4 linked regions of the Homo sapiens genome follow. The protein of the gene in region 4 purifies or fractionates together with the protein of the main gene of each other region. This does not show direct contact. Each region holds a gene or a part of one and is shown on either strand. Other genes may lie near its edges.

Region 1 (3,500 bases), on a different chromosome or scaffold from region 4:
CAATACAAAACCAAAACCCGCAAGTAATTTTGCTATGGAGAATTTTAAACATATGCCAAAAATGAGACAAAATAATATTACAAACTCACATGTATACATCCTGTGCTTTAACAATGATCAACTCATGCCCAATCTTGTTGGATCTGTATCCCCAGCCACTTCCCCCCACCCATATTATTCTGAAGCAAATCCAAGATATTGTATACTTTCATCTGTAAATATTTCAGTATGTTTCTTAAAAATACAAACATCTTTAAAAGTGTATAACAACAAAGCCATTATCACACCAAAAAATTAACAGTAGTTCTTAAAATTTATCAAATAGTCAATTGTCAAATTTCCACTTGTGGTATCCATGTAGTATATGTGTATGAGTGTGTTTATTATACTTTGCTTAAATCAGGATCCAGAAATGGTCCACATATTGTGACTGGTTGATACATCTTTTAAGTCTGTCTGTCTATCTATCTATCCATCCATCTATCCATCCATCCACCCATCAATCCATGTATCTGTCTAAAAGTTTCCCTTGCACAGTTTATTTGTTGAAGAAATAGGTTGTTTGTCCTGTGGAGTTTCTTAGGGTCTGGATTTTGTTGACTGAATCCCTGTGGTATTATATGCTCTTCTGCCTCTGTACTTCCTGTCTATTGATAGATAAACCTAGAAGCTTGTGAGATTGAGGGGTTTTTTTTGGTCTTTTTCCAGCAACAGTACTTTTTAGGTGGTGATGCATTCTTCCTCCAAGAGGCACACAATGTCTGGTTCTCTATTTGTGGCAACATCAGCCACTGATGAGCAGTACCTACATCCATGACAGAATTAGGGCTGCAAAAGGGAGATACTCTATCATTCTTCATGTATTAGCTGAAGTAGTCTATGAAGGGAGACTTCCCCTCATCTACCATTTCATTACCCGGTGGTACAGTTTGATGAGGAAAGGCAGAGTGAGCATTTAGATCTCTTCCTACATTTACCAGTTCTCAAAAACAGCTACTTCATCCAGGGCTTTATTTAAACATTTTCCTAGACACTTGATAAACATCTTTTTTGTGTAGAGAACTGCGCTGGGCACTCTGACGGCTACAAAGGTGAGTTGGGCACAGTGCCTGCATTTAAGGAGCTCCCCGTCTAATCAAGCAAGACAGAACTGGGCACAAGTAATAGGAAGCAGTAACTGAAAAGATCTGGGGCTAGAGGCAATGCTGTATGGTAGGAGAAGGGACTGTATATCCTTTATATTGCAAATTGGAACACTGGGGTATTGGTGCCACTTTTAAATTCCGTCCAAATTGTACATTTAAAAGTGGAGAATCTCTTTTGAGTATGGAGGAGGAGCAGTGCAGTTGTGAGTGGAGTGTGTGAGGAGTTGGGAGGGTGGTTTCTGGTAGAAGTGTGTTTAATTAGCCGGCTCTCCCATTCCTGTTTTCCAGACCCTGGTATACATATATGGGGATATGCTCAGCAACGTGGGAGCTGCAGAGAAGGTTTTCTCCTACATGGACCGACAGCCAAATCTGCCTTCACCTGGCACGCTTGCCCCCACCACTCTGCAGGGGGTTGTGAAATTCCAAGACGTCTCCTTTGCATATCCCAATCGCCCTGACAGGCCTGTGCTCAAGGTGCCTGAAAGAGGGAGGAAACCTGGACCCTTGCTCTCTGCTGCTAATGCATAATTGGACATCACAGCCTATAGTTCATTTGCCTCTGAGAACCTGGTCTTGCCTCTGCTAAGAAGAGAAATGGAGGGATTTTGAGGGAGAAGGGGCAGGCCCTTAACTCTTTTTCTGGTTTTCTAGGGGCTGACGTTTACCCTACGTCCTGGTGAGGTGACGGCGCTGGTGGGACCCAATGGGTCTGGGAAGAGCACAGTGGCTGCCCTGCTGCAGAATCTGTACCAGCCCACAGGGGGACAGGTGCTGCTGGATGAAAAGCCCATCTCACAGTATGAACACTGCTACCTGCACAGCCAGGTGGGTGAGGAGGGAGAAGACAGGGGACAGGAGAGGGGAGCATGTACAGAGAGAGGATGGGAGATCCACGGGAAGGCGCACCAGGTGTTCATTCTGAGGGAGGTAGGTGGGGAGGACAAAAGGGCCCCTGCCTTGGGGGTTTACACATAGTCCTCTGCCCCTGTCCCTGCTGCACAGGTGGTTTCAGTTGGGCAGGAGCCTGTGCTGTTCTCCGGTTCTGTGAGGAACAACATTGCTTATGGGCTGCAGAGCTGCGAAGATGATAAGGTGATGGCGGCTGCCCAGGCTGCCCACGCAGATGACTTCATCCAGGAAATGGAGCATGGAATATACACAGGTATCTTCTACAAATTGTAAGCTTGCTCCTTCAGTAAAAAAGAGAAAATCAGACTTACTCTTAGTGGTGAAGGTCGTGTCCCTGTAGCTTGATGTTTGCTGTTCCTCTGCCCTTTCCTCCATTCCTACGTCTCCTTCCCCACACACTGAATTCTTCAGCCTCCCTCTTGATCAAGAGTCTTTGTTTGCAGAGAGCAATGCAGCAGTGGTGCTCCCTCCGTGGGCAGCCCCGTCAGGTCCCCACCCCATGGCCCTCCTCCCACTGGGCCCTCCCCGCACTGGGCCCTCCCACCTCCCGAGGTCCTACTGGAAGTACCTGCTGTGCACTTGTCCCTCCTTGTGTGTTGTCTGTGTCACTTGTATCTGAGGAAGGGAATTTCTCTGATTTCCTCAGATGTAGGGGAGAAGGGAAGCCAGCTGGCTGCGGGACAGAAACAACGTCTGGCCATTGCCCGGGCCCTTGTACGAGACCCGCGGGTCCTCATCCTGGATGAGGCTACTAGTGCCCTAGATGTGCAGTGCGAGCAGGCCGTGAGTACCGTGAGAGGGCAGGGGACAGTGGGGCCTGGGAGGGGCATGCTGGGAGGATCAGACTGTGCAGAATTGGGCAGAGGGAGGACGAAGGACCTACTAGTGGAAACAGTCTGTGCCTTCTTGGGGTTGGGGAATGGAATCCGGTGGTGTGAGGGCAGCCCCAGTTCCCTCCTGGGCTTCCATTCCTCCAGCTGTGGCAGTACAGCCGGGAGAGAAGGGCAGTCCAGGCCTTTATCTACTGCCCTTTCCTACCTTCTTTTATTTCACACCTTCTTTACCCTAAATCATAAGAGATGGTGCCCAGGTGGATGTGGTGTCCATCTCATTCCTGTCTTTCTGAGGCACTGTGATCACCCCTTCAGCTGCAGGACTGGAATTCCCGTGGGGATCGCACAGTGCTGGTGATTGCTCACAGGCTGCAGACAGTTCAGCGCGCCCACCAGATCCTGGTGCTCCAGGAGGGCAAGCTGCAGAAGCTTGCCCAGCTCTAGGAGGGACAGGACCTCTATTCCCGCCTGGTGCAGCAGCGGCTGATGGACTGAGGCCCCAGGGATACTGGGCCCTCTTCTCAGGGGCGTCTCCAGGACCCAGAGCTGTTCCTGCTTTGAGTTTCCCTAGAGCTGTGCGGCCAGATAGCTGTTCCTGAGTTGCAGGCAC
Region 2 (3,500 bases), on a different chromosome or scaffold from region 4:
ATGGGCAGCGAGGGGGCTGGACCTGGCTTTGGGACAGGGCAAGGACAGGGATCTTGGGGGGGCAGTGAGGAGCCCCAGGAGAGTGAGAGGGGGCCGGATGCCTCTGACTTCAGAGGGCAGGGGTTTAGATGTTCCCGTGCCAGTGGCTGCCCTGGGAGTCCTGAGCTCAGCGGCAGCGTGCTCGTCTTCCTTCCCCTCGGGGGCATCTCCCGCCGGCCTCGGTTTTTCCCCCAGCCGCTGGTGAGGCCGGGAGTCCTCTGCTGCCGCTGGCCGTTCACTCATCGTCTCTGGGTAGATGTCTGTGCGGGACTCCTGTTGAGATGATCCTGATGTTGGCAACACCCCGGGCGTCCTCCTTCTCCCCATCAGGCCCCACCTGGCTCTGCCCTGGGCCACGTCAGAGGCTGAGGCATCTCACAGTCCACCTGTCCGGGTGCTCTTCGGCCTTGCGTCCGTTTGAGCTCTGCCGCAGTCGCTCCCGAGGCCGGCGCCGTGCTCAGATGCCGTCCTGTACAGCCAGCAGCGCCTCTTCCGGGGCTGCCCTTCTGATACGTTTGTGCTGCCTCTGGAGCCACAAGGCCTTCGGAAGATCTGTTTCGTGGCCGTGGGCGCCTTCGGCACTGCCTTTTTGGACTTCAAAGCCTTTGCTCTGGTGTCAGCTTTGGGAGGGGCAGGAGTTGGGAGAGAAGGGAAAAAGCCAGCACGTGAGATTCAGCAATCAGTCCTCTCCTGTCTCAACCCTGGAGCGGGTGCCTGGCCGGCCACACGCGTGTTGGTTATGCTCATTTTTAAACTGGGTTTGTTGTCTTTATAATTGAGCTGCAGGAGTTCTTTATACATAGATGCAAATCTCTCATCCAATACATGATTTATAGAAGTTTTCTCCCGTTCAGTGGGTTTTCTGTTCACTTTCTCAGTGGTGTCTTTTGTTGCTCAAATTTATTTAATTAAAAAAGTTTTGGCCAAGGGAGGTGATTCGTGCCTGTAATCCTAGTACTTTGGGAAGCAGATGGATTCATTGAGCTCAGGAGTTCAAGATCAGCCTGATCAACATGGTGAAACCCTGTCTCTACAAAAAATATAAATATTAGCTGGGCCTGGTGATAGGCACCAGTAGTCCCAGCTACTTGGGAGGCTGAGGTTGGAGGATCACTTGAGCCCAGGAGGTGGAGGTTTCAGTGAGCTGAGATGGTGCCACTGCACTTCAGCCTGGGTGACAGAGTGAGATCCTGCCTCAAATTTTTTTTTTTTTTTCTGGGCAGGTGTGGTGGTTCACACCTGTAATCCCAACACTTTGGGAAACCAAGGCTGCAGCCCAGGATTTGGAGATCAGCCTAGACAACACAGTGAGACCCTGTCTCTACAAAAAACAAAAACAAAAACGAAAATTAGCCAGGTGTGGTGGTGTGCGCCTGTGGTCCCAGCTACTCAGGACGCTGAGGCAGGTGGATTGATCGAACCCAGGAGGTTGAGGCTGCAGTGAGCCATGATCACACCATTGTACTTCAGCCTGCGTGACAGACGGGACCCTGTCTAAAAAAATTAATTATTACTATTCTTTGAGATGAGGTCTCACTGTGTGGCCCAGGCTGAACTCCATCTCTCAGGCTCAAGCAATCCTCCCGTTTCAGCTTCTTCCTGAGGAGCTGGGACCACAGGTGCATCACACCCCGCACAGGTTGTATTGCTGAGGTTCAGCTAATCTGTTTTTTCTTGTGTTGCTTGTACTTTTGGTGTCAAATCTAAGAAACCATTGCCTCACCCAAGAGTATGACGACTGACCCGTTTTTTCCTAAGAATTTTACAGTTTTAGGTCTTTCATCCCTTTTGAGTTAATTTTTGGATGTGGTGTGAGGTAAGGGTCCAACGTCATACCCTCCCTCTCTCTCTCTCTTTTTTTGAGACAGGGTCTCACTGTCACCCAGGCTGGAGTGCAGTGGTGCAATCATGGTTCACTGCAGCCTCTGCCTCCTGTCTGTCTCCCAAGTAGCTGGGACTCAGGCGCATGTCACCATACTCAGCTAATATTTTGTAGAGATGGAGTCTTACTATGTTGCCCAGGCTGATCACAAACTCCTGGCCTCAAGCAGTCCTTCTGCCTCTGCCTCCCAGAGTGCTGGGATTATAGCTGTCAGCCATTGCGCCCGGCCCAGCTTCATTTTTGCATGTGGAAATCCAGTTGTACCAGCACCATTTGTTGAAAACACTACCTTTCTCTGTTGAAATGTTTTGACACTGTTGTGGGAAATCAATTGATCGTACATGTTTTGGATTTCTTTCTGGACTCTCTCAATTCTCTTCCATTCTTTTGTGGCCATCTTCATGCCAGTACCATGCCTGGTTTTTTTTTTTTTTTTTTTTTTGGCTTTTTTTTAAGAGTTGGGGTCTCACTGTGTTGCCCAGGCTGGGTGGATCACTTGAGGCCAAGAGTTTGAGACCAGCCTGGCCAACATGGTGAAACCCCGTCTCTACTAAAGATACAAAAATTAGCCAGGCGTGGTGGTGCACACCTGTAATCCCAGCTACTTGGGAGGCTGAGGCAGGAGAATGGCTTTAACCTGGAAGGCGGAGGTTGCAGTGAGTTGAGATCGCGTCACTGCACTCTAGCCTGGGCAAAAAGAGTGACTGTATCTCAAAAAAAAAAAAAAAAAAAAAAAAAAAAAGACAGATGAGGGTTTTACTCTGTTGCCCAGGCTGGTCTTGAACTCCTGGCTTCAGTTGATCCTCTTGCCTCTGCCTCCCAGAGTGCTGGGATTACAGGTGTGAGCCACCGCACCCGGCCTCATGGATTGATTTTTGGATGTTAAACTAACTTGTATTCCTAGGCTGAATTCACCTTGCTCCTGGCATTGCTGGAATCACTTTGCTTGTGTCTTACCAAAGATCTTTGCATCCGTGGTTGTAGGGGTGTTGGTCTGTAGTTCTCTTTTTTTTTTTTTTCTTTGAGACGGAGTCTTGCTCTGTCACCCAGGCTGGAGTGCAACGGCGCAATCTCGGCTCACTGCAACCTCTGCATCCCGGGTTCAAGCGATTCTCCTGCCTCAGCCTCCTGAGTAGCTGGGATTACAGGCGCCCACCACCACGCCCAGCTAATTTTTGTATTTTTAGTAGCGACAGGGTTTCATCTTGTTGTCCAGGCTGGTCTCGAACTCCTGACCGCAGCTGGTCCACTTGCCTCGGCCTCCCAAAGTGCTGGGATTGTAGGTGTCAGCCACCGCGCCCCATGTGCAGTTCTCTTGCTGTGTCCTTGTCCTTGGTGTCGGGATGATAATGGCCTCGTGTGTGAGCTGAGAGGGGCCTCTCTCCTTGTGGCCTTGTCAACTGTGCTTCTCTCTTTGCCTTTTTCTGCCACAGGATATGGACCCTCCACATCCCTTCCCCAAGGAGATCCCACACAACGAGAAGCTCCTGTCCCTCAAGTATGAGGTGGGCGTCCTTCTGTCCCCCTGACCCTGAGACCCGGCCTCTGCCCCCTGCCAGCCCACTCCCGGTCCCCTGTG
Region 3 (3,500 bases), on a different chromosome or scaffold from region 4:
CAGGATTTACACGCCTGGGCTGGGGGGCACCGGCTGCTTGAGGCTTCCGGGAGCGGGGGAGGTCAATATCTTCTAGCCCGTGTCACTCTTCACACACACACCCTTAGGATTCCAAGTTCAGCGGGGTGGGGAGCAGGGCCCTGGGCTTCACCACTCCCCACCTTCTTCCCTGGCCCCCTCCCACCCAGCTGGCACTTGTCCTCTGTGACTCACGAGTTCACACACAGGACCACAATGTTCTTCCACAGGTTCCGTGTCCCCACCACCTTCACGATGCAGACCTTCTTGGGCCTCCGGGAAAGCTCTTTCTCCAGCTCTGCAAAGAAACAGACCCTGTGAGCCCTGGGCAGGCCGCCCACAGAGGACAGGACAGCAGCTGCAGTCACAGCCCTGGTTCCCCAGTTCGGGTACCACAGAAGGGAGAGAGAAGCTTTTTTTTTTTTTTTTTTTTTGCCAGTGGATAGGGTCTAGGTTTCCAGGATAGAAAGGCACTCATAAGACCCCAGCTTTGCAGTTCAGGTTTCGCTCGGGTGCCTGAGAGGGCACCAAGGTGCACCGTCAGCAGAAGTTTCCATCACAAACCCTTGTTTTGGAACCAGTCAGAGTGCACACAAACGGTCTCGACTCAGTTCACTTTTGTCTGAGTACAGAGCTCAGCGATGATATTCTAGGTTACTGAGGCACTCATTAGGCCCTGGGCAAATCTAAACATGCAGTTCTTTTCCGTACACTCTACATCTGCCTGTGTCACCCCCGGCTCGGAGACTGGGAAGGCCACATGCAGATATGCTTCTTAGCCTTGTGGGGTGGAACTATGGCTGTAGCTACTTCTGCTGAAACTGCCCTTAGGACATCATATGCATCTTTGAAAGCCAAATACATAAGTGAACACATCTGCGTGTATGTGTATACACCATACATGCACACATTCATACGCATGCATATACGTGTGCATGTTTTAGTTAACAGAAGTCCTTGGGGGCTGGACAATATTTTGGCTCCAAGGGATGTGAGCAACTATAAAGTCATGAGACTGAGTTTCTTGTGCGGCTCCAGCGGCTCTGAAAGCCCCTCTGAAGGGAGTCCACCAGCGCACAGTGTTACATTCACCAGGCCAAGGGGTCTGCAGAGGTGCTGGTGTTGATCTGGCAATTTACAGGGAAGATTCAGAATGGTGGGGGTGCTGGCCTCCAGGAGCTGTCTGCTTGCACGTCTGGGAGCAGGAATGCCACCTCAGCCTTCTGTTGCCTCTCTGCCTTCCTAGCCTGGCATGTCTTCATGGAGTAATCCCCTACTGGGGAGCTAAAAAAGAAAAGGGAGACTTCCCGAAGCGGAGGGGAACCAGGACTCTTCAAGACTGTCAAGGTCACCAGAAACAAGAAAGACTGAGCAGCTGTCAGACCAGGAGACTAGGGAGAGGGGAGGACAAGACGCAGTCCTGGGCGGCATCCCGGGTGGGAGGAGTCGTCATGGAAAGCACGATGATGGGAGGCACCAAATAAAGGCTGGGGTTTGGTGAATGGTAGTGTTCCAATGTCACTCTTTTAGTTTCGACAACAGTACCACGACAGTATCAGACATTCGCAATCTGGGAAGTCGAGTACTGGGAGGTCTGTCGTTGCCTCTAGAGGGATCCTTCTGCTCCCTCGGGGGCTGTGTCTCCAGGACCCTGGCCCTGTGCTTCCGAGGGCCACTCTGAACCCTGGATGGCTCAAGTTCAACCCTCCTCTTCCACCTCCTTCCTGCCATCCAGCGGTAGGAGGGTCACAAAGCTCTTTCATTATAGTTTGAAGAAAAAATGTGTTGCTAAACCGTAGGGATTTGAATAAAGCAATGATGTTTTTATTCAAACATTGTTTTTGAACTGAGTGTCACCAGCCAGGGCACAGAAGGGAGAAGGAGAAACCTTTCACTTGTCTGAGGGAGCTCATGTCTACTGAGTTTCCAGAACTTTCTCCCTTGCCATACTTGGGTGCAAAGATTGAGGTCTGTGTGTAAGCCCACAGGGCCGGCGTTTCAGCTGCTGGTCCACGGACCCTCTCAGCTCCCAAGGTCCATTATTTTTCCTCAGCAAAAATGGGCTACTTTGACTACAGGCACAGTTTCTCCATGGTTAAAATAACTAATTTTATAAAGAGCTTGAAAATATCATGGTTAACAGAAAACCTTGGATCCAATGATCTGAATATCTTTGCTATTATAGAACTCATCAGAAACCAACTGTAATAGCTACGTTTTCTCACCATGGAAGACTTCCGAGAAGAAAATTTCAATGTCCATTAGCAAGTCCATATAAGTTTAAAGTTTTAAAAAGTATATACCCCAAACTGAACTCCTGATATGTTATTGTTTACTAAGTATGATGTTAAAGAAGCAATAACAACTGCATTATGACCTGAGCTTTTTAAATAAAATTAAACCTAGAACCCAGTCTAAAAAATTGACTGTAGTCTGCAGAGGTAACTGAATTCTTCTAAGTGGAATTAGATTAACCTTTCCAGGGCTATTGATATGTTTTCAGGAAGCACATGAAGCGCTTCCTCCCATGTCTGGCAGAGTCACTGTCCAATGACTTTGTGCTTATCTTACTACCAGTTACTCACATCACCAGCCTGTCAACAACAGCATGAAGCTTCCGCAGCATTATATCTGTTCTTCTGGGCCTCAAATCCTCGAGTGCTTCTGGAGGCCGTGCCGAGTTCTCCCATCCGGCCCTCAAGGCAGCGCTCTATGTTATAGGACACTTCAGATGGTTCTAACACCCTCAATGGTAGCTGAATCCAAGAGGCCTTTTTGTCTGTCCAGGTATCAGATGGACATCTAGAGACTTCTCTAAACTCCTCACACATGGAAATGAATGGGCAACAGGGAGCCCGGCCAGGTTGTGGGACACTGGCATCTAGGATTTGCTGCTGCGAGCACCCAGCTCCCATGCTCTCCTCGAGACAGAGGAGGAGGAGGACACATCAGCCTGCTTGACTTAGAGCCATCAGAAAATTTTCCAACCAAAACCCACGTCGAGCCGACTGAATTTTGATGAGCCAGGTATGTCCAAGGCCATCCTGCAGCCCCTGTGCCTCCACATTTTCACGGATCCCCGTGTGGTCGGGGCTGAGGTCTGGGTGCTGTGAGGGGCCCGATGAGCCTGGGCAGGAACCCAGCTTCTGCACTTCCGGCAAAGCTACGCTCTCCTTGGAAAAGCTACGCTGTCCTTGCTCTGAGCCCAGCTGCTCGTCTGTGAAGTAGGATGAAGCGCTGCCTTGAGGGCCGGATGGGAGAACTCGGCGCGGCCTCTGGGAGCACTCGGGGAGCACGTGTCTTCCCGCCCCGTGCTCAGTGAGCCCAACATCTCCCAGCTTCTCTTCACCAACAGAGGGAGGGAAAGGAGGCCCTGATGACCCTGCTGACCCGCTGGGAGGAGGGCACGGCCTCTCCACATTTGGCCATCTGGTGTGAGAGGTAAACCAGGCCTCCGAGGACAGCAGAGGACGCAGTGGCCA
Region 4 (4,263 bases):
AGGCACCAGTCCTAAAGTCATGCTGTATCCCAGGGGCTTGCTTATTATGGCCCTCTTTGTTCAATTTTTCCAAAAACCATGGATAACAGTGGAGTTCCGCAAAGAAAAAGGGAGGAAGCAGCTGAAAAGGACCTAAAGGGAAGAGCATCACCTAGTTCTGCCTCCACTGGCAAGGTTTTGTCCCTAAGGAGAAGCACCCTGGTGCGTGTGGCCTGGTGTTAAGTGTGTTCTGTGGAGGAACAGGGAACCTGGCTTTCCAGCTGGGACTGCTTGCTTCCTCATCATGGGCCTGTGGACAGTCACTGTCCCCTTCTGGAGCTCAGGTTCCTCACCTGTACTGATGTATGTGTGAGCCTACACTGATGAAATCTTGGACCCCTCTCCTGCTCGCTGGGAGTCTGAGCTTCTTCAGAGCAGCAGGGACCTCAGAGATCACAGAAAAGGAGTCCCTGGGTGTAATGTAAGCTTAGTGCTTTGGGTGCCCTTTCTGTTATTAGTGCACAGGAGAGAGAGGGAAGGCGCGCCTGCCAAGTTTGAGCAAGTTGAGAGATTGCTCCAGGCATCCTCCCACTCCTGCCCTCCACCATCGCCCCATCCCAGTCCCCAGCTATTTTGATGCAAGAGAATTTCCTCCTACAGCTCTGTGGAAACACTGGAATCGTGACCCACAGCCCTCCCCAAACTATTTTGGTCTTGGGCTCCCCACTCAGTCCTCCTCTCCCTTTTACCACATTCAGCATTGCTTCTTCTCAACATGGGCTGAGCTCAGGTTCTGGGAAAGCCCCTTGGATAGGGCCTTCAGCTACTACTTCTGGGTTCTTGTGCCAAGTCTTGGTGTTGTCACACAGGAGAGCTGGTGGCTAGGGCCACAGCTGAACATTGCCTGCCTCTGGGTCAGGCTCAGATGCCACTGGGTTGGGATGCCCATCAAACCTATGTGATTTGGGCTTCTTCAGGCCCCAGTCCACCCTCCAGTTGGGATTGGCTGGTTGAGTTGCCGCATCTCAGTCTTCCTTTCAGCTCCCTACCCTGTGCCCAAAGTTTACACTGCTCAGGGCCTTGAGTTTGAGGAAAGCCAGGTTCTCGTAGCTGAGATCCAGGTCTTGGAGCTGCATGAGGTCCTGGAACTCTACTGCAGCCCTTTGGCCAGTCCAGGACTCAGGTTCTGACTCTTCCGGCAGGCCAGAACCTGACTCTTCAGGATATAGTCAGGGAGATTGCCAGGACTCAAATCCTGGCTTCAACACTTAGCAGCTGTGTAACTTCCAACAAGCTACTGAACCTCTCTGTGCCTCAGCTTCCTCCTCTGTAGAGTGGCAATCTCATTAGTGTTCTTCTGGGGATAGGAAGAGATAGGTAAAGCTGCTTAAGAGAGGGCCTGGTAAATAGCAAGTACTAAGGTCTCAAGTTCCTCCTGGAACATATTGGCTGTCACGCAACTTAAGCTATTGCAGCTCTGTTGAGATTGTGTTAGTCATTACTATTTATACGAGAGTTTCCAACACTTGGAATGCTAAAAAAGCATTCTGGTAGATTAGAACAGGGCTTAGAAGTCAGATAAATCTAGGTTTTATTCATGGTCCTGCCACTTTTTAATTTTTTAATTTGTATTTTTTTCATGGCCCTGCCACTTTCTAAGTGTGTGATTCCTGTCAAGCCTTTTTATTGTTCTAAATCTCAGTTTCTTCACCTGGAAAATGGGTATAATAAAAATGGGGGTCTCATGAGATAATGGATGCCAAGATCTTAGGTCATGGTGAAAGCTCAATAAAAACCACCAACCATAGGCTATTCTCACTTGTCTACTATCCGTCTGCCTCATTAGGTCATGAGCAGCGCAGTGGTGAGGGACATCTATTTAATGAATGAATGGGCCCTCGGTGCCTCACATGCACTGGAAGGATTCTACAAACAACCTGTTGGCCGAGCTGGTGTACAAAGAGGCAAGCCCACATTAGAAAATGCAGTAGGTGCTTTCTGGCTCTAAGTTCCCCCGCTTTCTTTGGAGCCTTTGCTTCCCATTGAGGCAAGCCCTCCCTGTTGACTGCCCCGTTCTGCCCCTCTATTACCTGCTGTACAGCGCTGGATCCGGTTTCGCAGCCACTTCAGCAGGGGTTCCATGGTGCAGCCACACACCCAGGGATTGCCACCGATCTGCAGGGTCACCAGCCCCGGTAGGCCCTCAAGAGCCTCCAGGCTGAGGAAGGCCAGGCCCCCATAACTGAGGTCCAGGTCTCGGAGCTGCATGAGGCCCTGAAAGGCCTGGGGATGCACCCTCCGCAGCCAGGGGTTGTGGCTCAGGTCGATGTGGACTAGCCCATGGGCCTCCTGGAACATGTCGGCTGGCACATGGCTGAAATTGTTGTAGCTCAGGTCCAAGTGTGCCAAGCGCTTGGCATGGAGGAAGAGGCCCCGGGGCAGCTCCATTAAGGAGTTGTTGTGCAAATCCAGCACCTGGAGCTCCATGTAGCATGTGAGGTAGCCAGGCGGCACTGCTGTGATGCGGTTGTGGGCCAGGCTGAGGTTTCGGGTGTCCATTGGCAGGTCTGGGGGCACGGAGAATAGCCGCTGGCTGCTACAATCCACCACCTGGTTACGGCATGTGCAAAGGACGGGGCAGCTGGTGCCGGCATCCGAGTGCATCAACCCGGCTGCCAAGAGGAGGGAGATCAGCAGCATTGCTGGGTGGGGTGGCCCGGGCCAGGGAAGCTGGGCCCAAGTGTCACCCATCTTAGGCAGCAGGCAACAGCAGTGCTGGAGGGAGCCCATGAGGACTGTGTCCATGGAATCGAGAGTCTGTGACACAGGAAGGCAGCTACATCTGGGGCCAGCGTCTGTGAAGGTGGGGCTTCTGAGCATGTGGTATCATGGCTAGGGACTTTCCCAGGAGCCTCTGAGCACCAGAGGGCTTCCTGAGATCCACGGGAGGTCCCCTTCCGGAGCCTAGGGGGCAAGACACCCAGTTGAGGTCCCCTAGGGTCTGGAATGATGATCAAAACCTGAGAAAGGGAGGGGACAAGAATGGGGCTAGGTCAGCTGCCAGCAAGTCCTGGAAGAGTTCCTGCAGATCTTTTGTGTCTCTCTCACCCATGCCTGCTGGATGTTTCCTCTTGGTGCTGTGTCTGGGAGGGAGGGGCTGAAGGAGATGAAACGTGCCCTTTAAAGATCCTTGGCACTTCTTCTGAGAAAACTTAAGTCCTGTCCCACGTCTGGGACTGATTAGGAAGCCGGGGCTGCACCTGGGTCTTCAGTGTTGAAGGTCTCAGAGGCCATTTGTCCTGGTGGCCTGGTGGGCTGGAGTCCAAGGGGGTCCCAGGGTGGGTGTTTTGGGAAAAGGGCCCGGGAGGAAGTGAGTCTCCATGGGCCTCCTAAAAGCCTGAGAGTCCTCAGCCTCAGTGGCTGCTGGAATCCCCAGGAAGCCTCTTTTTTTCCCAAAGAGAGGAGGACCCCAGGTGATGCCCACTGTCTGGGCCTCTGGGGCCAGAAGAAGTCATGAGTCCTGAAGGTGCAGGCTGAGTGTCAGCTGGCAGAGCTCTGGCATCTTCTCCAAGCCAGTGCCTTCCTCAGCGCAGTTCTGTGTTCAGCAGGTGGAGGCCAAATTCCCTCTGTCAACAAGGAAAGCACTCAGGCAGAGAAATCCTGTGCCCTTGACACTCCCTTGTCCCTTCACCTAGGACGCTTGGCTTATCTTTGTCTCTTTCCTTTGCTCCCCCAACCACAAAGTTCTCTGCTTACTGTCTGTCAGGTGTGGGCCATGGTAGGTTCAGACCCCAGGCTCACATTGCTGTTACCCACGAGCCCTCCCTGACCCAACCTGCAGCCATCCTCCTCTGGGTTCCTGTCTTGGGTTAGATGCATTTTCTTCTTCTTCTCATAACCCCACCCTCATTAGTACCAAACACGCCACCCTTGAACAACTCCCTAAGAAAAATCTGCATCCACACTCTGGGGGTTTGCACACCCCTTTCAAACACTCTAAGCACTCCTCTCTCTCTCACACGCACACACACACACTCACTCACACACCATTCTGTGACTCCCCCGTATTTTGCCCTGCCCCGTGCTCACGCCTCGCGGTTTTCGCTCCAGCTTCCTTCTGCACAGGCGATTCTGCAGACCCCTCCCCAGTCGACCCCCAGCATCTTTCGCCCCCCTCTCAGCGCACACCCTTCATCCCAGCATCCCTTTCCACACACTGCACTCTCCTCGCCGCCCCCAGCAGAGGGACCGAGAGTGATGCCACGCCCAGAGCCTCAGCCCTCG

The links. The genes of interacting proteins can lie anywhere in the genome.
Region 1: the proteins of LRRC55 (region 4) and TAP2 purify together in Homo sapiens (affinity purification with mass spectrometry; one large-scale study listed by BioGRID and IntAct). This does not show direct contact.
Region 2: the proteins of LRRC55 (region 4) and CLCN7 purify together in Homo sapiens (affinity purification with mass spectrometry; one large-scale study listed by BioGRID and IntAct). This does not show direct contact.
Region 3: the proteins of LRRC55 (region 4) and SLC22A23 purify together in Homo sapiens (affinity purification with mass spectrometry; one large-scale study listed by BioGRID and IntAct). This does not show direct contact.

The regions. Positions count from the first base shown.
Region 1 is NC_000006.12:32,828,740-32,832,239, reverse strand, and holds part of TAP2 (antigen peptide transporter 2), read left to right. Parts: intron 1-1,433; coding exon 1,434-1,622; intron 1,623-1,799; coding exon 1,800-1,973; intron 1,974-2,150; coding exon 2,151-2,310; intron 2,311-2,703; coding exon 2,704-2,840; intron 2,841-3,205; coding exon 3,206-3,334; 3' UTR 3,335-3,500. UniProt on the Homo sapiens protein: ABC transporter associated with antigen processing. In complex with TAP1 mediates unidirectional translocation of peptide antigens from cytosol to endoplasmic reticulum (ER) for loading onto MHC class I (MHCI) molecules.
Region 2 is NC_000016.10:1,461,529-1,465,028, reverse strand, and holds part of CLCN7 (H(+)/Cl(-) exchange transporter 7), read left to right. Parts: intron 1-3,354; coding exon 3,355-3,426; intron 3,427-3,500. UniProt on the Homo sapiens protein: Slowly voltage-gated channel mediating the exchange of chloride ions against protons. Functions as antiporter and contributes to the acidification of the lysosome lumen and may be involved in maintaining lysosomal pH.
Region 3 is NC_000006.12:3,289,551-3,293,050, forward strand, and holds part of SLC22A23 (solute carrier family 22 member 23), read right to left. Parts: intron 317-3,500; coding exon 214-316; intron 1-213.
Region 4 is NC_000011.10:57,180,490-57,184,752, reverse strand, and holds the start of LRRC55 (leucine-rich repeat-containing protein 55 precursor), read right to left. Parts: upstream 2,801-4,263; 5' UTR 2,731-2,800; coding exon 2,070-2,730; intron 1-2,069.